6 linked regions of the Homo sapiens genome follow. The protein of the gene in region 5 purifies or fractionates together with the protein of the main gene of each other region. This does not show direct contact. Each region holds a gene or a part of one and is shown on either strand. Other genes may lie near its edges. The genes, in order: PML, COA7, ARHGAP29, UNK, ACOT8 and OSBPL11.

What was found.
Region 1: the proteins of ACOT8 (region 5) and PML purify together in Homo sapiens (affinity purification with mass spectrometry; 4 studies listed by BioGRID and IntAct, with this or other methods). This does not show direct contact.
Region 2: the proteins of ACOT8 (region 5) and COA7 purify together in Homo sapiens (co-immunoprecipitation; 2 studies listed by BioGRID and IntAct, with this or other methods). This does not show direct contact.
Region 3: the proteins of ACOT8 (region 5) and ARHGAP29 purify together in Homo sapiens (co-immunoprecipitation; one large-scale study listed by IntAct). This does not show direct contact.
Region 4: the proteins of ACOT8 (region 5) and UNK purify together in Homo sapiens (co-immunoprecipitation; one large-scale study listed by IntAct). This does not show direct contact.
Region 6: the proteins of ACOT8 (region 5) and OSBPL11 purify together in Homo sapiens (co-immunoprecipitation; one large-scale study listed by IntAct). This does not show direct contact.

Annotation. Positions count from the first base shown.
Region 1 is NC_000015.10:74,022,216-74,025,715, forward strand, and holds part of PML (protein PML), read left to right. Parts: intron 1-612; coding exon 613-1,193; intron 1,194-2,641; coding exon 2,642-2,712; intron 2,713-3,500.
Region 2 is NC_000001.11:52,691,848-52,695,347, reverse strand, and holds part of COA7 (cytochrome c oxidase assembly factor 7), read left to right. Parts: intron 1-2,480; coding exon 2,481-2,621; intron 2,622-3,500. UniProt on the Homo sapiens protein: Required for assembly of mitochondrial respiratory chain complex I and complex IV.
Region 3 is NC_000001.11:94,203,085-94,206,584, reverse strand, and holds part of ARHGAP29 (rho GTPase-activating protein 29), read left to right. Parts: intron 1-901; coding exon 902-950; intron 951-1,386; coding exon 1,387-1,524; intron 1,525-2,590; coding exon 2,591-2,655; intron 2,656-3,374; coding exon 3,375-3,485; intron 3,486-3,500. UniProt on the Homo sapiens protein: GTPase activator for the Rho-type GTPases by converting them to an inactive GDP-bound state. Has strong activity toward RHOA, and weaker activity toward RAC1 and CDC42. May act as a specific effector of RAP2A to regulate Rho.
Region 4 is NC_000017.11:75,819,306-75,822,805, reverse strand, and holds part of UNK (RING finger protein unkempt homolog), read right to left. Parts: intron 3,123-3,500; coding exon 3,021-3,122; intron 2,887-3,020; coding exon 2,698-2,886; intron 330-2,697; coding exon 148-329; intron 1-147. UniProt on the Homo sapiens protein: Sequence-specific RNA-binding protein which plays an important role in the establishment and maintenance of the early morphology of cortical neurons during embryonic development.
Region 5 is NC_000020.11:45,850,893-45,854,392, forward strand, and holds part of ACOT8 (acyl-coenzyme A thioesterase 8), read right to left. Parts: intron 3,062-3,500; exon of another isoform or gene 3,031-3,061; intron 1-3,030. UniProt on the Homo sapiens protein: Catalyzes the hydrolysis of acyl-CoAs into free fatty acids and coenzyme A (CoASH), regulating their respective intracellular levels. Displays no strong substrate specificity with respect to the carboxylic acid moiety of Acyl-CoAs.
Region 6 is NC_000003.12:125,578,498-125,581,997, reverse strand, and holds part of OSBPL11 (oxysterol-binding protein-related protein 11), read left to right. Parts: intron 1-1,957; coding exon 1,958-2,133; intron 2,134-2,958; coding exon 2,959-3,038; intron 3,039-3,500. UniProt on the Homo sapiens protein: Plays a role in regulating ADIPOQ and FABP4 levels in differentiating adipocytes and is also involved in regulation of adipocyte triglyceride storage. Weakly binds 25-hydroxycholesterol. Interacts with OSBPL9 to function as lipid transfer proteins.

The sequences.
Region 1 (3,500 bases), on a different chromosome or scaffold from region 5:
CAAAGTGCTGGGATTACAGGCGTGAGCCACCGCGCCCGGCCGATTTCTTTCTTTCTTTTTTTTTGAACAAACATCAGCCCCCAAAATTATTGTAGATATCTAGGTCAATCATTTAACATGTTCTGTTTCTTCCTCTGGGAAATATGTATAACGACAATTCTCACTCAAGGGGCTCTTGCAAAGGTTAAGTGGCATGGCTGACATGTGTCAAGTCTGTACCATCCTGCAAGCAGCAGCCCAGTCTGGCATTTGTGTAAGGCGGTTTCAGTGGAGAGATGTGTGGAAGGGTGCACCCCACGATGCTCACCTGGTGCTTCCTCGGTGGGGAAGGGAAATTCAGAAGTGGTGGAAAGAGATGATTGTCGTTTCGTATATCTTTGTATTGTTTCCCGGATGTTGAAATTGTTACTGTAGTAACTTTTTATACTCATGTGTTATTGGTAGTTTGGATACTATCACCATAACCACAAACACTGAATTAGGAAAAGCAGAAACCTAGAAACATGCCATGATTCAAAGTCTGGTATTTTTGGAAGAGGAATTTAATAACGAACGTTTTAAGAGGAAAAAGTCAGGAGAGTCCTAACCCAGGCCAACCTTGTGTGTCCACAGCATCTACTGCCGAGGATGTTCCAAGCCGCTGTGCTGCTCGTGCGCGCTCCTTGACAGCAGCCACAGTGAGCTCAAGTGCGACATCAGCGCAGAGATCCAGCAGCGACAGGAGGAGCTGGACGCCATGACGCAGGCGCTGCAGGAGCAGGATAGTGCCTTTGGCGCGGTTCACGCGCAGATGCACGCGGCCGTCGGCCAGCTGGGCCGCGCGCGTGCCGAGACCGAGGAGCTGATCCGCGAGCGCGTGCGCCAGGTGGTAGCTCACGTGCGGGCTCAGGAGCGCGAGCTGCTGGAGGCTGTGGACGCGCGGTACCAGCGCGACTACGAGGAGATGGCCAGTCGGCTGGGCCGCCTGGATGCTGTGCTGCAGCGCATCCGCACGGGCAGCGCGCTGGTGCAGAGGATGAAGTGCTACGCCTCGGACCAGGAGGTGCTGGACATGCACGGTTTCCTGCGCCAGGCGCTCTGCCGCCTGCGCCAGGAGGAGCCCCAGAGCCTGCAAGCTGCCGTGCGCACCGATGGCTTCGACGAGTTCAAGGTGCGCCTGCAGGACCTCAGCTCTTGCATCACCCAGGGGAAAGGTAAGCACGCACGCCACCTTCCTGGGCGGCCTGTGCCTCTGCTGCACCCTAGGGAAGGCGAGTCAGAAGAGATCATCTCCATTTGACAGAAAAGAAAACTGGGTGTTTATTCAGTCTTTGGGGGTTGGTAAGGTCTTAGGTTCCAGGGCACAGGATAAGGGGGAGATGAGGCCCTGACAAAGGGCTGCAGCCACCCAGAGGGGACACATTTTACTAATTTACAAGACTCTGTGGATTGACCTAGCGATGACTCATGGGGAACACGTGAAAGTTGAAAAACTGCAAAGCTGAGAATCAGACCCAGTATCATTTTGGCGCCAGAGGGACCAAGCACTTCAGGAGGTTCTCTTAAGCCACCGGTGTCTCGGAACAGAGAAGTCAATTGGGACCTGGGGTTACGGTAGAAGGGGGCTAAGAAAACCTCCTGGGGATGGTTGGATGCTTACCCAAAACCATACAGTGGCTCAGTGGAGGAGATCCCTTGTCTGCAGGATGACCTGCTGTCTGCCAACCTTTGCGCGCCCTGCCTAGTGTTGGACGCTTGAGAGGTAAGGAGACACAGACTAGTTTCTGATCTCAAGGAGCCAGAGCCACTTCACGTAGCTGGAGAATGAGACAGTGCTCAGCTCTGCAATCCAAATCCGGGAGATGTAGCAGCTGTGTATTAGCTGGAACAGGGGGGCTTTCAAAATAAGGGGTAGGGGGAGTGTGCCAGAGAGTCTCCAGGAGTCTTTGACTAAATCTCCAAGCTGGAATGTGAGCTCTGAGCAGCTAGTATAGGATGCCCTTACTGGGAAAGGGGAGGGAGGCTATGGAATCTGAAGGCACCTGGGTAGGGTGCCAGTGACAAAGAGCTTATTTACTTCTCCTGGAGCTGGACATGGGTCATGAAGGATAATCTTAGAGGGCCTGGACCTGTGCCTTCTCCACCTAGGTAGTGAATGTCACCCATATTAAGGAAATGACCCCACAGAGTTTACACAGCTTGCCTTGGGTGTTATAACTGGGCAATAGCAGAGAGAAGGGTTATTTTATTCTGAAGCATAAGAGATTTAGATTTAATAAAAACCAGGCTGCAGATAAGGAAGATCATGGAGCTCTCACTATATGTAGAGAGTCAGTGAGCCGGTAGTGATGGCTTTATGATTGCGCACACTTAGCCTTGCTGTTGGCTCAGAGATGGAGAGAGGTACACTTGGGGTTTGGAGCCAAAAGCAAGCACTCTAATGCCACCTCCTTTTCCCTTCTGGCTGGGTTCCTGCCCACTGCATTCGAGAGAGCTCTCCTTCCAGCTGCCCCTCCAGGGAGTTGTCCAGTGCTTTGGGATGCCCTGGAAAATAGGTATCCTGGAAAAGCAACAGGGACCTCCTCTCTATCACTGTCCCAGGTCAGGATGTCCCTTACCAGCATGTCCTTGACCTGCCTGTGACCTTCTTTGTGTTCTACAGATGCAGCTGTATCCAAGAAAGCCAGCCCAGAGGCTGCCAGCACTCCCAGGGACCCTATTGACGTTGACCTGGTGAGATGGGTTTGAGGTCTGAAGGGGTGGTGGTGGGGCCCAGCAGGTCAGGCAGGTTGTGAGTCCTGCTGTCCCTGTGTGTGCAGGGAGAGCGTCTGAGTGAGGGACAGCAAGTGGCTGGACTGGAAATTTCAGTGAGAGGAAGTAAAGGAAGACATTAAAGAAGGGTTGGCTGGCTAGCTGGCTCTGACTCTAGGCTCCTAAATGCCAAAGTTGCTCTTGATGGGCCATGAGCCAGGTTCAGTGGGGGTTAGATGTGGGGTAGACAGTCGGCCACAGATCAGGGCTGCTGCAGAGGGAATTCCAGCATTAGATGGCATATTAGTGCCTTCCAGCCATGAGAAACTATGGTTGTCAGATGTATGGTTAGATATAGGGTCAGCAGTCCTGAGGGATGTGCAGATGTCCTCTCCCCTCCTACACCCTACCCCCAATGTGGGAGCCTTCTCTTGGAGTCAGAATAGGTGGGCCTTCCCCTGCTCTTTCCCCACAGATGGTTCTTGGAAAGGAACGGGGAATGGTGCCAGGAGTCAGATTTCGATCCCAGTTGCCCGGGTTCTGCTGGTGTGATTCCAGGGCCACCATACATGTAACAAAGCAGACTGTCTCAGGGTTCAAGGTATCCATGTCCCATCTAATGCTGGCATTCCTTCTGCAGCACCCCTGACCTGTGGCTGTCCAGCTTTCATGTACACATCTCCAGGGACAGGAAGCTTGCTCATTCTAGAGGCAGCTGCTCCCAACTCTGGACTGCTCTGACTTAGAAAGTGCTTTTCCGAGTGGAAATG
Region 2 (3,500 bases), on a different chromosome or scaffold from region 5:
GATTACAGGCGTGTTCCACCACGCCTGGCTTTTTTTTTTTTTTTTTTTTTCCCTGAGGCTGAGTCTTGCTCTGTTGCCCAGGCTTGAGTACAGTGGCACGATATCAGCTCACTGCAACCTCTGCCTCCCGGGTTCAAGTGATTCTCCTGCCTCAGCCTCCCAAGTAGCTGGAATTACAAGCGTGCGCCACCAAGCCTGGCTAATTTTTGTATTTTTAGTAGAGACGGGATTTCACCATGTTAGCCAGGCTGGTCTAGAACTCCTGACCTCGAGTGATCTACCCGCCTTGGCCTCCCAAAGTGCTGGGATTACAGGCATGAGCCACCACACCTGGCCTGAATCATATTACTTATTTTCTTGAAACCCTCCAGTGGTTTACTGTTTCAGTTGGAAAAAATCATAACTCCATCCTATGTTTCACGAGGCCTATGGTCTGGTCCCTACCTTCCTTCTTCATTTCCTGACCCTCCTCCTTGGTTCAGCCATGTTGTACCTTATTCGTGCCAAACTTATTCTTTCAGGTCTTTGTATTTACTGTTCCTTGTGCCAGGACTTTGTGCCCCTGCCCATTTTATTGTCTTTTAATTTCATTTTTTATTTTTTATTTTTAAATTTTTTCCAAATCCCTGCCCCACTCCCATTTCATTGTCTTTAAATAGCTAGTGCTTTCTTGTTATTGAGGTCACAGTCCTTGGTGAGCCCCTCCCCAGTGGCTCAGTCTTTGTTAGCCATTCACCCAAAGTTGACAGCAAACAGTTATCCTGTTTTACTTCAGTCATAGCATTTATGTATTTATTTGTATAAATTTAAGGGGTACAAGTGCAGTTTTGTTACATGGATATATTGCCTGGTTGTGAAGTCTGGGCTTTTTTTTTTTTTTTTTTTTCGAGATGGAGTTTTGCTCTTGTTGCCCAGGCTGGAGCGCAATGGCGCTATCTCGGCTCACCGCAGTCTCCGCCTCCCGAGTTGAAGTGATTCTCTGCCTCAGCCTCCCGAGTAGCTGGGATTATAGGCATGCGCCACCATGCCCGGCTAATATTTTCGTATTTTTAGTAGAGACGAGGTTTCTCAATGTTGGTCAGGCTGGTCTAGAACTCCCGACCTCAGGTGATCTGCCTGCCTCGGCCTCCCAAATTGCTGGGGAAGTCTGGGCTTTTAATGTAACCAACCATCACCCAAATAATGCACTTGTACCTGTTAGGTAATTTTTTATTCCTCACCATCCTCCCACCCTTCCCAATCTCCAGTGTCTATTATTCCACACTCCCTGTGTCCATGTGTACACAGTATTTAGCTCCCACTTATAAGTGAGGACATGCAGTATTTCACTTCCTGTTTCTGAGTTGTTATAACATTTATTACTGTTTGAATAAATTTTGTTCATTTATTTATTTATTGTATTTCCTCCCCTAGAATGTAAATTTTAGGAGGGCAAATGAGTATATTCTCAGCATCTAGAACCATGTCTGGTACATAGATGCATAGAGATGCTCAAATATTTGTTGAACGAAAATGAATGAGAGATATATGTTGTCACTGGGGGTAAAGAAGAGGGGAGAGAGATTAAGGAAAGAGGTTTACTGGGACTGGGAGACTGCCAAGGAAGTAGAGCCTATTTTCATTAGAAGCTGCCGCCTCTACTCTTTCTCTTTGGCTTTCATGTTCCTACCCTGGCTGAGGAGTAAGCTATAGTCATTACAGCACCCTTTTCTTTTTCTTTCTTTCTTTTTTTTTTTTTTTTTAAGACAGAGTCTCGTTCTGTCACCCAGGCTGGAGTGCAGTGGCGTGATCTCGGCCCGCCGCAACCTCCGCCCCCTGGGTTCAAGCGATTCTCCTGCCTTAGCCTCCCAGGTAGCTGGGATTACAGGTGTGCGCCACCACACCTGGCTAATTTTTTTATATTTTTCCACTCCTGGCTAATTTTTTTGCATTTTTAGTAGAGACAGGGTTTTACCCTGTCCAGGCTGGTCTCGAACTCCAGACCTCAAGTGATCCTCCTGCCTCAGCCTCCCCAAGTGCTGGGATTACAGGCATGAGCTACCGAGCCTGGCCCAGCACCCTTTTCTTGCTGCTACAAAGACTAGCCTATGAGCCTTTTAGGTTTTCACTGTTTTTACCATTTAACTTCATGAGAGATTCCAAAACTAGCAAAGTTTCAATCATGGAAGTCAGTGGATACTTGGGCGTGGCTGACAGGGAGCAGAAGGGCTGGTGAGTGGTAGAGCCAATGCAGGGGCTGAGGTCTCCCCAAGCCATGCATTGCTCAGTCCATGGCTGTGGGGAGACAATGCCATTTGTAGGAATGGCTAAACACCACCTACATTCTTTGTGGTAAGGCCAACTTGCCACACATCAGGAGGACAGGGGCTGTCTTAAAAGACATCACCTGGCCTGCCACACCTGGGCACCCCCTACCCCCAAGTCCCCACTGCGAGCAGCAGCCCCAGACATGAAGAACAACCCTTGCCCTCTTCTCGCAGGTTGCTATCGGCTGGTGGACTATTTGGAAGGGATCCGGAAGAATTTTGATGAGGCTGCCAAGGTGTTGAAGTTTAACTGTGAAGAGAACCAGCACAGTGATAGCTGCTACAAACTGGGGGCCTACTATGTGACTGGAAAAGGTAAGGAGGGCCTGCCTTTTGGGTCCTTGTCATTGATAGCAGTGCTGGCCTCACACCTGAGCCCCATGATAAGCTCTTGCAGAAGGGTCTCGCAGGCATTGGGAAAGTGCATTGTAGGAAGATGGAGAGGTAGGAGTTCAGCAGAGTGATGGGGGGAAGAACACAGCCTTTCAAGTTAGGTAAACCTTAGGGAATGCTATTGGCAAGTAGTGGGACCTTGAGCCAATCACTTCGACTCTGTGCCTCAGTTACATCACCTGTAAATTGGAGGGAAATAGTACTTGCTTTGTAGGGTGGTGAGGATTAAGTAGGACAGCATAGGAAAAGGCATCAGCATGTGCTTGGCACAGAGTAAGGGGTCAGTAATTATTGTCTTCCTTCTGTCTTTTCTCCTTGTACTCTAATTGTAGTTATCACTGGCATAGTGTTTACATTATCTATGGCTAAATAACAAAATAGTTATTTTTGTTCACCTCAATAGTTTCTGTGGGTCAAGAATTTGGGAGTGGTTTAGTGGGGGTACCTCAGGGTATCTCATGAGGTTATAGTCAAGACATTGGCCAGGGAGCCAGGGCTGGAGACATTGGAAGGCTTGACTGAAGTTGGAGTTTCCAATTCTAAGATGACTCACTCTGATGGCTGGTAGCAGAGGCCTCTAGTTCCTTACCAGCTGTTATTGGGAGAGCTCAGATCGTCATGACATGGTTCGCTCCATGGGCTGCTTGAGTGTCCTCATGACATGGCGTCTGGGTTCCCCCAGAGTGAGTAATTTAAAGGAGACAACAAGATAGAATCCACAGTGTCTTCTATGACCTATCTTTGGAAGTCACACACTTTTCATTTCTATCACATATTTATTAGATGTAGCCTACACTAAGG
Region 3 (3,500 bases), on a different chromosome or scaffold from region 5:
GTACCATGCCTTGCGCTAGGCCTACATCATCTTAATTCTTAAAACAGTCTTTTGAAAGTAGTGTTCTTATCCCTCTTTTACAGAAGGACTTACAAAGTTAGTGAACTTAAAATATGTAGCCCAGTGTCATACAGGTAATAATGGAGCTGGACTTCAGACCCAGGTCTCCTCGATCAGTTTTGCATTGAATCCCTGTATACCCTGTATTGCCCAATTTAAATCGATTAAATTTGTTTAAGATCTCAAAATTTTGGTAAATGATGTTTTCCAGCACAATGCAATAAAGTAGCACGAGTCACATGTAGTTCTTTAAATTTAATTATAATAGTTAAATAAAATTAAAAATTCACTTCCACCTCCTAGTCACACTAGCCACTTATTAAATGTTCAAATAGCTACATGGAGCTATTAGCTACTTTATTGGACAGTACAGATATAAAACACTTCCATCATCATAGAAAGTTTTGTGCTAAGCTATGTAATAGACTTTCAGAGACATGCTTATCATATAGTAAAATGATAAAAGATGACTGGAAGAGGCAGATCTGTGTCTTCTGTTTAGATAGCAATATGTTTGCATTGCTTCTCTAACTTCTTGACTAATATTTTTGTTATCTGCAAAATTTAAAGTTTTGAATGGATTCATTAATGTTAACTAATGCTGTTAGTAACAACAGTGAGGTTGTTCATTCTTGGATCTTGGGAACTCCTGTTGTAAAAAGCTATGAAATTCTTATGAAGTGTTCTGGCACTTAAACAGACTTCTAAGGCCTTTAAGTTTTAAATACTTGAAATTCTTTAGCAGGAATTATGTCAGAGTAACAAATTGGGGCAAAAAAATTCTGAAGCAAAGATTTGTGTTCTTCTCTAATTTTAAATTTATCTTTTTCCATGTTGTAAGTCGTTTGAAAATGTTTCTGTGGAATCAGTGGACTCATCCAGTGAAAAAGGTAATGCTCAAGGTGTTTATAACTTTTCACAAACTTCTTGTAGTTACTTTCTATGAATGTCCTGGATTAATCTCTTCTTGCTTAGTAACCTAGTGTATTCATTTTTAATGCAAAATGATATATAAAGTTTTACATATAGAGCTTAAGGGAAATAACCTGCTAGAGTAGATAGATAATATGAGATATAGACTGATCAAGAATTGTGTAAAGCTTTTAACTTGATGGATAATAGAAATATATTTTAAGATAAAAATACATTATAGTTTGAAACCATTTTAAGTTTAAACTCTGGCCTTTTAATTGTAAATTTGTCACTTGTATTTTTTTTAAAAACCAGTTTTTATTGACTAGTATCTTAGGATCTCAGTGCTTCTTTGTTTGGAGTTATGATGTGATCACATTTAACATATACTTACCTTGATATTTTTGTTTTCAGGAAATTTTTCCCCTTTAGAACTAGACAACGTGCTGTTAAAGAACACTGACTCTATCGAGCTGGCTTTGTCATATGCTAAAACTTGGTCAAAATATACTAAGAACATAGTTTCATGGGTTGAAAAAAAGCTTAACTTGGGTGAGTTGCCTTTTAAAGCATCTGATTTAGAGTATAATAATTAAGTTGTTTCTAACTCATTTTTTACAGATTATGAGTAATAGAATTCCAAATTAGTACCTGTTTCATTATAATGAATAAAACCATTATCCAGAAAAGACTCTTCTTACACTAGATGGAATTAGTGAGTATTTACTGTGGACCAACTACTAGACCTAGGGACACAAAGACAAATAGAATACTGTCTCTGCCTTCAAAGAAGTCATACTCTAGTGGGTAAGAGGAAATGCAGTCAGATAATATGGTCAGGAGATAACAGCAACAATAGATGTATGAGTAGAAGGCAATGGAAACAGAGAAGAAACATTTTAATAGCTAATATTTCCTCAGTGTTTTACAGTTATCAAAATGTTTTCGTAGTCATTATCTTATTTACTTCTTACAAAAACTCTGAGAAGTAGGCAAGACAAGAATTGTTTTTCCTATATTACAGCTGAGAGAGACAAGACAGGAGATTTCTTAAGGTCATATAGCAGATTTGCTTAAAGTCATATAGCATAACTGGAAGAATATAGAATCTACCCAAAGCCTATGCTCTTTCTACTGTATTATTTGCTTATAATAGAGAATGCTAATCAGAATCACCTGAATAGTCTTGTAGAGGGTCAGTACACAAGCCTAGGTCCTATCCTTCAGAGAGGTGAAATGGAGGCAAATATATTCTGAAAGAGTTTCCCAGTTGATTCTGATGAGCACTCACAATTAAGAAGTGCTGCATTAAGAGCTGTACATGGTGGCTTATGCCTGTAATCCCAGCTATTCCTGAGGCTGAGGCTGGAAGATCACTTGAGCCTGGAAGATCACTTGAGCCTGGGAGTTCGAGACCAGCCTCGGCAACGTAGTGAGACCATGTCTCTTTTTAAAAAAAAAAAAAAAAGGAAGAAAGAAGTATTGCTGTATTATATCTTGATACACACTAGTATTTGTGATCACTTCTTAATTGTGGAATTACTACAAGTAATTTTAGAGTATACAGGGGGAAAAATAAATTGATTTTACCTTCTGATACCCTCTTTGAACTTTTCAGAATTGGAGTCCACTAGAAATATGGTCAAGTTGGCAGAGGCAACTAGAACTAACATTGGAATTCAGGTAAGTGTTCTGTGAACTTCGGGGGTTCTATAATAAGAAACTACTCATGAACTCCCAATAATTTGCAAAATCAGAATATTTCAGTTAATATAGGAAAGCACTTAAATGCTGATCTTTTTATTGACAAAATTATTTTAAGTTTAGATGGATGTCCATTATGAAAAAATCTAGGAAATACGCTTTTTTTTTCGTCTTAAGACAGGGTCTCACTCTGTAACCCAGGCTGGAGTGCAGTGGCGTGATCTCAGCTCACTGCAACCTCTGTCCCCCGAGGCTCAAGCGATCCTCCCACCGCAGCCTCCTGATGACCTGGGACTATAGGTGCCCACCATGCCCTGGCTAATTTTTGCATGTTTTTGTAGAGATGGGGTTTCACCATGTTGCCTAGGCTGGTCTCAAACTCCTGAGCTCAAGTAATCCACCCACCTTGGCCTCCCAGAGTATTGGGATTATAGGCATGAGTCACTATTCCCAGCCAGAAATTTACAATTTTATACAAATACTGATTGTCTTGATAGCTACTACTTTTGCTAACCAGTTTTATGATTAATTATAATTAATTTTCTTCTATATTTTTCTCATAGTCATGTTTTTGACTAGTTATTTTTCTGGGGGCAAAAGTCTAAACTTAGTTTCCCTTTTTGAAGAAGGGTAGTGATGTGTTTGGAATTCTAGTGCCATTTCTATTGTAAAATTTACTTTTCAATTTTAAATTTTAGGAGTTCATGCCACTGCAGTCTCTGTTTACTAATGCTCTTCTTAATGATATAGAAAGCAGTCACCTTTTACAACAAACAATTGCAGCTCTCCAGGCTAACAAATTTGTGCAGGTAAAGATTAATTTA
Region 4 (3,500 bases), on a different chromosome or scaffold from region 5:
AGGGGGAGAGCGAGCGAACAAAACTGAGTTTCTGCTCTGTTCTTCCAGCCCCCGCTTTCCCCCACCCCACGCCCACTCTGTGAAGGAAGGTCTTGGGCTGGATGCCACCTGGCACTGGGGAAGGCCGGCAGGCACGGGGCCTGGTACCTGCTTGGCCTGCTTCCAGGACTCCTCCCACTGCTTGATGGTGCTGTTGGCTTCATCCAGCTCTTGCCGAAGTCGGGCCAGCTCGGCAGCCCCTGGCCCTGATAGGAAAGCGGGGGAAGTGCCCGGGGAGAAGCTTCCAGAGGCAAAATGCTCCCAGATGCTGCTGTTCATCCCGTTCAGACCTGCCCCAAGGAGGGGAAGAACATCAGCTCCGGAGGGCTTTGGGCCCAGGCCCTGGCCAGCCCTGCCTCAGAGGTTCCAGGGACTGGCTGTCCACTGGATGGGTGTGCAAGGCTCCAGCTAGTGTCAGGCCAGAGAATTTTGCAGGGACAGGAAGGCTGTGAAGGTGCAGGTGGCGTGGGCGGAGTCAGACCTAACCTTGAGTGACACCTGCTAGTTGGTGCCACTCAACTTCCGAGGCTCAGCACCCTCATGTGGGAAATGGGACTCCCACACTGGCCTCACCGGGTAACTCAGGGGACTCAGGAAGTACTGCATGTGAGAGCAGTCCCAGGCCCCCGATAGTGGCAATTTATGATTGTGGCTTCACTTTTAGGCTAGGGCCTTTTTGCAGCCTGATGTGAGGCCCAGGAAGAGATAAAGGGGAAAAGACAGGCCAGAGCCTCATCGGATGGCAGAGCTGGGGCAGGAAGAGCTCAGGGAGCCTTGGGGCCATCCCCCTTGTTTTACAGACAAGGACCCTGGATAAAATGTTTTACCAAGAATCACACAAATTGTAAGTGGTAGGGCCAGGACACAGACAGGGAGTGTGGTTCCAAAGGCCTATGCTTTCCAGTCAACTATGCTGCGTGCACAGCCTCCCACCCACCGCCAACCCAGCTGCCCTCTGCTCACTCGCTCAACAGATGTTTACTAACATCAGGTCCCCCTGCTCTGGCCCCCAGGGCAGCCCCGGGCTTCCGAGAAGGACCCATATCCACCTCTGGCCTCACTCTGCCCATATGTACTTTCTGGTGACTTCTTCCTTGCTCCCTTTCCCACTAATCCAACCAGGATGTTCCAGAACCAGATTTAAGACGCTTTGCTCTCTGAGACACACAAGTGCACCCACAGAGGAGGGACATGGTCCTGTGCGGAGACCCTGTGGCATGCACTGTCTGAGCCATCTGCCCCATCCCAGAGGAAGACCTCAGGGTCACCCCACCCACATGAGACCAGCCCTGCAGCAAGCTCTCCTGTCCCACCCATCTCTCCTCCTCCCTTGGAGAAGCTCTCCTGACTCTGCTGTCCAGGTAGGCCCCTCTATGATTCTCAGGAGGATCCCAATGGCTGGGCACCTCTGCTTCCCACACTGGCCACAGCTGCTGGACAGCAGGGACTGTTGCACTTACACCTGTATCAATACACCTGTGCTCAATAGTCACATGGTGCAGGAAGGAGTGTGTGGCCAGTAAGTGGAGCTAAGTCTAGACGCCACCAGAAGCTGGGCATGGTGGTGCACGCCTGTGGTCCCAGCTACTCAGGAGGCTGATGTGGAAGGATTACCTGAGCTCAGGAGTTCCAGGCTGCAGTGAGCTAGGATCATGCCACTGCACTGCACTCCAGCCTGGGTGACAGACTGAGACCCTACTCGAAAAAAAAAAAACAGATCCTATCCGAATATGGGGCAAGTCCGAAAAATGCAACACCAAGCACCTAAAGCTGACAGAATCAACGTAACAGAGAACAGCCTCTTCAAACTGGAAGGCGCTGAGAAATCCATGTGCTGTTCTGGGATCAGGAATGAGATAAGGGAAGCCACCAAACCCAATCAGAACTCTGAAGGGCTCATTCCCTGGGCCCGAGCAAAATGCTGGCACTCTCGGGGAGGGAGCTCCTGGTGTCTGCAGCTGCTGGGGGAGAGTGAGAGCGGTGGTGCCATGTGCTTCCCATCCCGCCCTCAGGAACATCCCCTGACACACACAAGAGGAGATGCACAGCCGGCCCGCAGTGGCACAGGCCTCTGTGCCATTCTTCTAGCCACTAAACCTTGAAGTGCCCTCAGAAACCCCCATTCCATACCATTCTAATTCTGTGGGCAAACAGCCTTCTGGGCCAGCCCTGGGCCTCCCTGGAGCCTCTGCCCGGCAGGAAGGGCACCCGAAGCCAGGGGTTAACCTGTCTGGCTTCTCCCTTGGTCCCCTGTGAACCTGGCTGGTGCGAGCCAGCCTCTCGGAGCCTGGGGTGACTGGGCAGAACAGAACCATGCTGTGAAAGAGACCAGGCCCAGCCCTGGCAACTGAGACCCCTGCTCTCACCTGCACTGGCCTCGTGCCTAGCACTTCAGCCCCATTACTCCATTCAATGCTCACAACGTTAGGAGGTGGATGCTGCCGTTATACCCATTTCACAGCAGAGGAAACTAAGGCAGAGAGGCTCAATCACTTGTCCAGGGTCACACAGACAGGAATCTGACTCTGCCTCCTCGCCCAAGGCCTCTGCCCTAACCCCCAGCCTAGCTGATATGCCGTAGATGGGGTGGCCAGAGGCACCTCCTAAAGGCGCAGGTTCCTGCCCCAGTTCTCCTGAGTGAACCACTCCCTCTCTTACCCAAAGATCCATGTGATGCTGAGGTTCCCAAAAATGTGTTTTCCGACTGACTCAGGTGGCCCTGGGGCTGCTGCAGGAAATGCGAGGAGAGGCTGACGGGAGGGGACGGGGATGCTGAGTGGAAGGAGGCAGAGCTGCCCAAGGAGCCGGGGATGTTCACGGGTGCAGAGCTCTGCAGCAAGCTGCCGCCTGCAAGAGAGGCCCGGGGAGGACGGGCTGGGTGAGGGCAGCGGAAGCCAGGCGGGCCACACAGAGCAAGGGGCCTGAGCCAGGCAGGAACCCGAGGAGTCCTCCAGGCTGCCCTGCCCACCCACACCCAGTACCGATGGTGATGCTTCCTGGGTGGGGCACTGTGCTGTTATCGAAAGTCTTCTCCAGGGCGGCCACGCCAAACTCATTCAGGTCCAGGTCATCCAAAGCAGACTCTAGGGACAGAGAAGAGTGGGATGTGACCTCCCGAGGGACTATCTGACCCTGACCACCTCGTCTACTGCCCACGCTGCATCTTCACGCCCATGCTACGCTGGGTCCGTATTCTCCCAAGCCCCTGTGCCCTTCCTTCAGCTGCTTCCTATGCCAATCCTGACTCCTGACTTCTGACACCGTCTGCCAGTCATGTCCAACCCAAATGCCTCTCCTTTCTGAATCTTCTTTGATACTTCCAGGAGAAATCACATCCCCATCCAGGGTCCCTGCCTCGGACAAGGGTCTTGTCCCCTGATGTTACAACTCAAGGGTCTCAGCCCCGGGATCAGTGGGGGTGGGCGGGTCTCTGGGCACTCAGTGGCTGGTGTATAGCAGGT
Region 5 (3,500 bases):
AAGGCACTGGCCAGGGATAAGGCAGCCAACAACAAGCAGGTGAGGGAAGATTTGGAGAGGAAGAGAACTTCCCTGGTTTCCCTGAAGTTCTCACTTTGTCTGAGTCAGGCTGACCTTGAGGAACCCTGACATCTGGGCCATGAGACATCTTGGGGATGACTTTCAACCTTCAGATGAAAGAAGCAGGTCTAGAGAAGTGTTGCTTCCTTCACTCTGATCCAAATGGGGAGTCAACCAGGCACCAGGGCTCAATCAACAGCAATAAACATCACTGTCTGAGGTCAACTGGCTTGCTCAGCTCTCTGTTATCAGGCACTGCCACCAGCAGCACTTCTATCAGAGTGCGAGCTCCTCAAGGTTAAAGGCATTTGAGAAGGGCTTACCAAGAGTCCAGACACTAGACAAAGTTACTTGTGCAGTCTGCTTTCAGACACTGGGAATGAAGTCTTCCTCCCTACCACCAAACTTGGGGGGAAAAAACAAAAAAAAACCTCTAATCCAATCCTTGGTCTGCAGGTAAGCTAAAGTGCAGATTCCTGAGGAGGATCACAGAAACTTCAGTACTCTGGTCTACCTTTCAGTGTGAATGAGTTCCAGCCCTATTCTTGAAAATTGTTATTGGAACAGAGCAGGTAGGCCCTGAGGCATATTGAAGGGAGTTAATGATTATGGAGTGATGCAGGGTGCCTGACAGCATTGGACAGGAGGGTATGTTTTCTCATGTTGGTCTCACAATAACTATGTAGAGCCACTCTTACCCCCATTGTACAGATGAGGAAACTGTTGCCTTAAAATACAATTTTTTTGTAATAAAGTCATGCTAATTTGTTTACATATTGTCTATAGTTGCTTTCACTGGCAAAACCTAAAATGTTTACTATCTGGCCCTTTCTAGAATGTTTGCTGACCTTGTTCTGAATTCTTCAAGCTCTAAATTTACCTCTGTAGAGAAAAACTAAAAACAAAACAAAAACCCAACTAATTCACATTCTTTCCTGGGCTTTTAGAAAAAGAACTGATTTGATAAATGGCCAAGGACCAACCCTCCCCCTCCCCCATAACATCTTTTATTTTTAAAATGTAATTGAAACATCTCTTTTTTGTTTTGTTTTTTTGAGATGGAGTCTCGATCTGTCGCCCAGGTGGGAGTGCAGTGGCGCAGTTTTAGCTCACTGCGACCTCCAGCCGCCGGGTTCAAGCAATTCTCCTTGCCTCAGCCTCAGCCTCAGCCTCCCGAGTAGCTGGGATCACGGGCTAAGGTCACCACGCCCAGCTAATTTTCCTTTTTTTTTTTAGATGGAGTCTTGCTCTGTCACCCAGGCTGGAGTACAGTAGCACGATCTCAGCTCACTGCAACCTCCACCTCCAGGGTTCAAGCGATTCTCCTGACTCAGCCTCCTGAGTAGCTAGGACTACAGGTGTGCACCACCACACCTGGCTAATTTTTGTGTGTGTTTTTTTTTTTTAGTAGAGATGGAGTTTCGCCACATTGTCCAGGCTGGTCTCGAACTCTTGACCTCAGCCGATCTGCCCGCCTCGGCCTCCCAAAGTCCTGGGATTACAGGCATAAGCCACATGCCCAGCCAAAAAACAGCATTGGTTTTAATATCTGATATAGCTGGCAGAGTCACACCACAAACAGATAAGAGCTCTCCCCTTTTTGCCTTGCAGCCAGGAAGCTCAGAACTAAACCTTGTATGAAACTGCAACAATATGGCTTAGCCAAATTTTTTGACATGATCGCTTCTCCCAAATCCCATTACTACTGGCCTAATGTCCTTTGACTTTTAATATTCCCATAATAACTACCAATTATTTTAGCTATCTTGCAGCCTTTCAAGACACAAGCAAGGGCACAAATAATTATTTTTATTTATTTATTTATTTTTGATGGAGACAAGAGTCTCGCTCTGTCGCCCAGGCTGGAGTACAGTAGCATGATCTCAGCTCACTGCAACCTCCGCCTCCTGAGTTCAAGCAATTCTCCTACCTCAGCCTCCTGAGTAGCTGGGACTACAGGCACATGCCGCCATGCCTGGCTAATTTTTAGTATTTTAGTAGAGACTGGGTTTCACCATGTTGCCCAGGCTGGTCTCGAACTCCTGAGCTCAGGTGATCCGCCCGCCTCGGCTTCCCAAAGTGCTAGGATTACAGGCATGAGCCACCACGCCCGGCCAAATAATTATTTATTTTGAAATGGTGGCTTGGACACAGCTCATTTCACGCTGCTCCTGGATGAAGACTTTCCAAGAAAGAGGATCTTTTCCCCAGAACCTGGGATGGGTACCCTGGCAGCTCTCTCATTGTTTAGAATTATTGCCCAAGAGCGAAGCAAAGAAGCAGGAAAGAGTTTGGCACTCAAAGACACATAAACCAGGTTCAAATCCTGGCTCTGCCTCCTTGGGCACTGTGGGAGCTGGTTCCAAACCTCTTCAGGTCCCAGTTTCCTTAGGTAAGAATGATGGCAGGAATGCCTGCCACCCATGTTTACTTATGAAGACTAAACAAGATAATGCACACAACTATGCTCTGTATCATGCAAATTTTAATTATTCCCATAAGTTAATCATCAAAAACTAATAATATTTATGGAAAACTAGATTATGCCAAGCCCTGCACTAGATACTTTACTGGCAAAGACTCATTGAATTCTTCCATCACAGGATGAAGAGATTCAGAGTTCAAGTAATGCCCCCACCCACACAAAAGAAAACAGCCAGGTATTTCACTAGGCTGGAAGGATTACAATATCAAAAGGCTGGTACTTACAAACAAATTAAAGAAACAAAGCACATATTTACTCCCAACTAGCATAAAGATAAGAACCTGGCTGAGCCCAAGGTAAGTATTCAAATACTTTATAGCAGTGACTGGGGGCCGAGAAGAGGGGGGCCAATCAATACTCCTCAGGGATGAGGAGTAAGAGACACGGGACAGTATGAAAAAGTGTATTTACCATTACAGGGATAACTTTCATATTTACAAAATGAAGGGGGAAACCCCATGGTTTTCTTAATACAAATCACATACTGTAAAGGTCCACAAACTCTTCTCAGCTGGGGATCTACGCAGAACACATGAGGGCATCTGCTCTGGGGGTAACAGGGAAGGAAAGAAAACAGTGAGGGTTTTTTTTGTTTGTTTTTTAGCATAGGTTTTGCTTTTATTTTCCTTTTATTTATTTTTTTGTAGAGACAAGGTCTCGATTTATTGCCCTGGCTGGTCTTGAATTCCTGGGTTCCAACAATTCTCCGCATTGGCCTCCCAATGTGCGGGGATTATAGGCATGAGCCACCACACATAGGTTTTTTGTTTTTGAGACAGAGTCTCGCTCTGTTGCCCAGGCTGGAGTGCTCGCCCAGGCTGGAGTGCAGTGGCACGATCTTGGCTCACTGCAAGCTCCGCCTTCCGGGTTCACACCATTCTCCTGCCTCAGCCTCCCGAGTAGCTGGGACTACAGGCACCCACCACCACACCTGGCTAATTTTTTTATATTTTTA
Region 6 (3,500 bases), on a different chromosome or scaffold from region 5:
TTAATTAATTAATTAATTATTTTTGAGACAGGGTCTTGCTCTGTTGCCCAGGCTGGAGTATAGTGGCATGATCTCAGCTCACTGTAACCTCCACCTCGGGCTGAAATCATCCTCCTGCCCCAGCCTCCTAAGTAGCTGGAGCTACAGGCATGCACCACCACACCCATCTAATTTCTGTATTTTTTTTTGTAAAGACAGGGTTTTGCCATGTTGGCCAGACTGGTCTCGAACTCCTGGATTCAAGCAATCTCAACTCATCCAGCCCTTTTTAGAGTTACTTTTTTTTTTTTTTTTTTTTTTTTGAGATGGAGTCTCACTCTGTCACCTAGGCTGCAGTGTAGTGGTGCAATCTCAGCTCACCGCAACCTCTGCCTCCAGGGTTCATGTGATTCTTCTGTCTCAGCCTCCCAAGTAGCTGGGATTACAGGTGCACGCCACCTCGCCCAGCTAGTTTTTTGTATTTTAGTAGAGACGGGGTTTCACCGTGTTGCCCAGCCTGGTCTCAAACTCCTAAGCTCAGGCAGTCCACCCGCCTTGGCCTCCCAAAGTGCTGGGATTACAGGTGTGTGCCACCGTGTCTGGCCTAGCGTTCCTTTTTTAAAAAGGGGCCAGATGAGGTGACTCACACCTGTAATCCAAGCACTTTGGGAGGCCGAGGCGGGAGGATCGCCTGAGTTCAGGAGTTTGAGATCAGTCTGGCCAACATGGCAAAACTCCATCTCTACGAAAAATACAAAAATTAGCTGGGCATGGTGGTGGGCGCCTGTAATCCCAGGTACTTGGGAGCTGAGGCATGAGAATCGCTTGAACCTGGGAGGCAGAGGTTGCAGTGAGTCAAGGTGGTGCCACTGCACTCCAGCCTGGGCAACAGAGCACGACTCCATCTCAAAAAAAAAAAAAATTATTACACTACTTAAATTGGAATTTCTGAAATGTATTTTTGAAAGTAGTTAATCTAGAACCAAATCAGAATTTTTTTTTCCAAAGTGTATTAGTATTTCATCAAATTCTTTTCCAGAGTGTATCAGCATTTCATCATTTAGTTTCAAGGTCCTTATGTTTCAGCATCTCCAATTGCAGCTTTTTCATTTTTAAACAGGAGAAGTAATCTTTAGTTTTGACTTATTTAATGATTCATTCACAAAATCTTTTTTACCCTGTTATTCTTGTTGTATATTTCACTAATTCTTAAATCACAATGCATATCTTGCCTAGTATATCTTGCCTTAACCTCAGAGCTCATATTTTGATTTATTTCCGGTGAATTTTAAAGAAAAATTTTCACTACCATTTGTCCTTTGGCAGTTTACCCTCTGTTAATGAATTCTGGGGAAAAATCTGTCTCTGAAAGGATATGGTATCTTTGCTTCCTTTTGTGCATTAACTGATAGGCCTCTTAATAAATGCCTCTCCCTCAGCTGAAGGGTTTATTATATCTTTTATTAAACTCATTCAATTTTTTTTTTTTTTTTTTTTTTTTTTTGAGACGGAGTTTTGCTCTTTTTGCCCAGGCTGGAGTGCAGTGGCTCGATCTTAGTGCAGTGCAACCGCTGCCTCCCAGATTCAAGCGATTTTCCTGCCTCAGCCTCCCGAGTAGCTGGGATTACAGGCATGCACCACCACACCTGGCTAATTTTGTATTTTTAGTAGAGATGGGGTTTCACCATGTTGGCCAGGCTGATCTCGAACTCCTGACCTCAGGTGATCCGCTCGCCTCTGCCTCCCAAAGTGCTGGGATTAGAGGCGTGAGCCACTGCGCCTGGCCTAACTCATTCGATTTTTAGTAATCTTCCCTGCTGGAAAATTCAGTGTAGTGTTTCCAGGTACCTCTTGAAATGCTTTTAAATTTTATTTTTAAGAGCAAAACCCTGAAATGTGTAAGTGATTGAAGTTTGCTTTGCTTTAGTTTGCTGAGGGAAAATGTTTACAAATTATGGATTTTAAAAAATCATTACAGGTTTTTTGTTTTAAACAATGAAGCTGGGCTGTTGGAGTACTTTGTGAATGAACAGTCTAGAAATCAGAAACCTAGAGGAACTTTGCAGCTTGCAGGAGCTGTAATATCACCCAGTGATGAGGATTCTCACACCTTCACTGTAAACGCTGCCAGTGGGGAACAATATAAACTCAGAGGTATGACCAAAATATGAGAATTAATACTGTGATTTTCCTCTTTTTTTGAGAAGTTGGTGTCTTACATGCTTTCATATGGGCTTTGGAAATAGAAACTGCTGTCATCAGTGATGTAAATACAATATTCTGAACCTTGGAACTGCTTTGAGAATTTATGAAATCTTTTGTAATAAGTAACTGTTTTCAAGTGGGACAATGTATGTTTGTTTAGGACTGGCCCCTCTGAAAAACGGTGTAGGTGAAACTCTGATTACTGAAAATCTAGAAACATAGACTTTAAATGATATTTTTTATGTATTTCACCCCTTTACTTGGTTTAGTTTACGTGCCCTTTTTGCAGTTTTCAGTAACTAATGTACATTATTGGGATTTATTATAATGTCATTCATTAAAATAACGTATAACTTCTGTTAAGATAAATTTAATTTGTGTAGAAGTTTTTTATTTAATGAATACACAAAGTATAATGGTAATCCTAAGTGAGCGTGCTCCTGCAGATCTGAAAGTATTGATTATACATCAAATAATTAAGGGGTTATTTCTTTAAATAAGAACCTATTTTTATGAGTTGCAACATGTCAGTCTCTCATCCTCACCTCACTGCATGTAATTTCTCCTTTTAATGAAGTAACTACATCCAGCTACTGTGTTCCCTAACAACGTTGGTGCTTTGGCCTCTTTCCTGCCTCCCTCCAGTCAGGGAAGTTTGCTCTAGTGAGAGTAAGACCAGTATCTGCTTTTCAGTGATCTGATCTTCATACTGTAGGCAATTAATTGTGTTCCAGAATAAATAAATATAAAATAATTTTTACATTCTTTTAACAGCTACAGATGCAAAAGAGCGACAGCACTGGGTTAGCAGACTTCAGATATGTACACAGCATCATACTGAAGCTATTGGAAAGGTATGTAGATTTATATACAATATTAATATACAAAAATGAGGAAGGAATATTTTTTATTTTTTGCCTTTTAAAATTGAGATACTATTCATATACCGTAAAATTCACCCTTTTAAAGTATATACGTATAATCCTGTGGTTTTTAGTATATTCACAAGGTGGTTCAACCATTGTAACTTTCTTTTTTTTTTTGAGACGGAGTCTCTCTCTGTGGCCCAGGCTAGAGTGCAGTGGCGCAATCTTGTCTCACTGCAACCTCTGCCTCCCGGGTTCAAGTGATTTTCCTGTCTCAGCCTCCCAAGTAGCTGGGACTACAGGCACACACCACCACACCCAGCTTATTTTTGTACTTTTAGTCAAGACAGGTTTCTTTACTAAAAAAAGTTGTTTCTTTACTAAAAATGTTGGCCAGGCTGGCCTCGAACTCCTGACCTCAAGTGATCCGCCCACCTTGGCTTCCCAAAG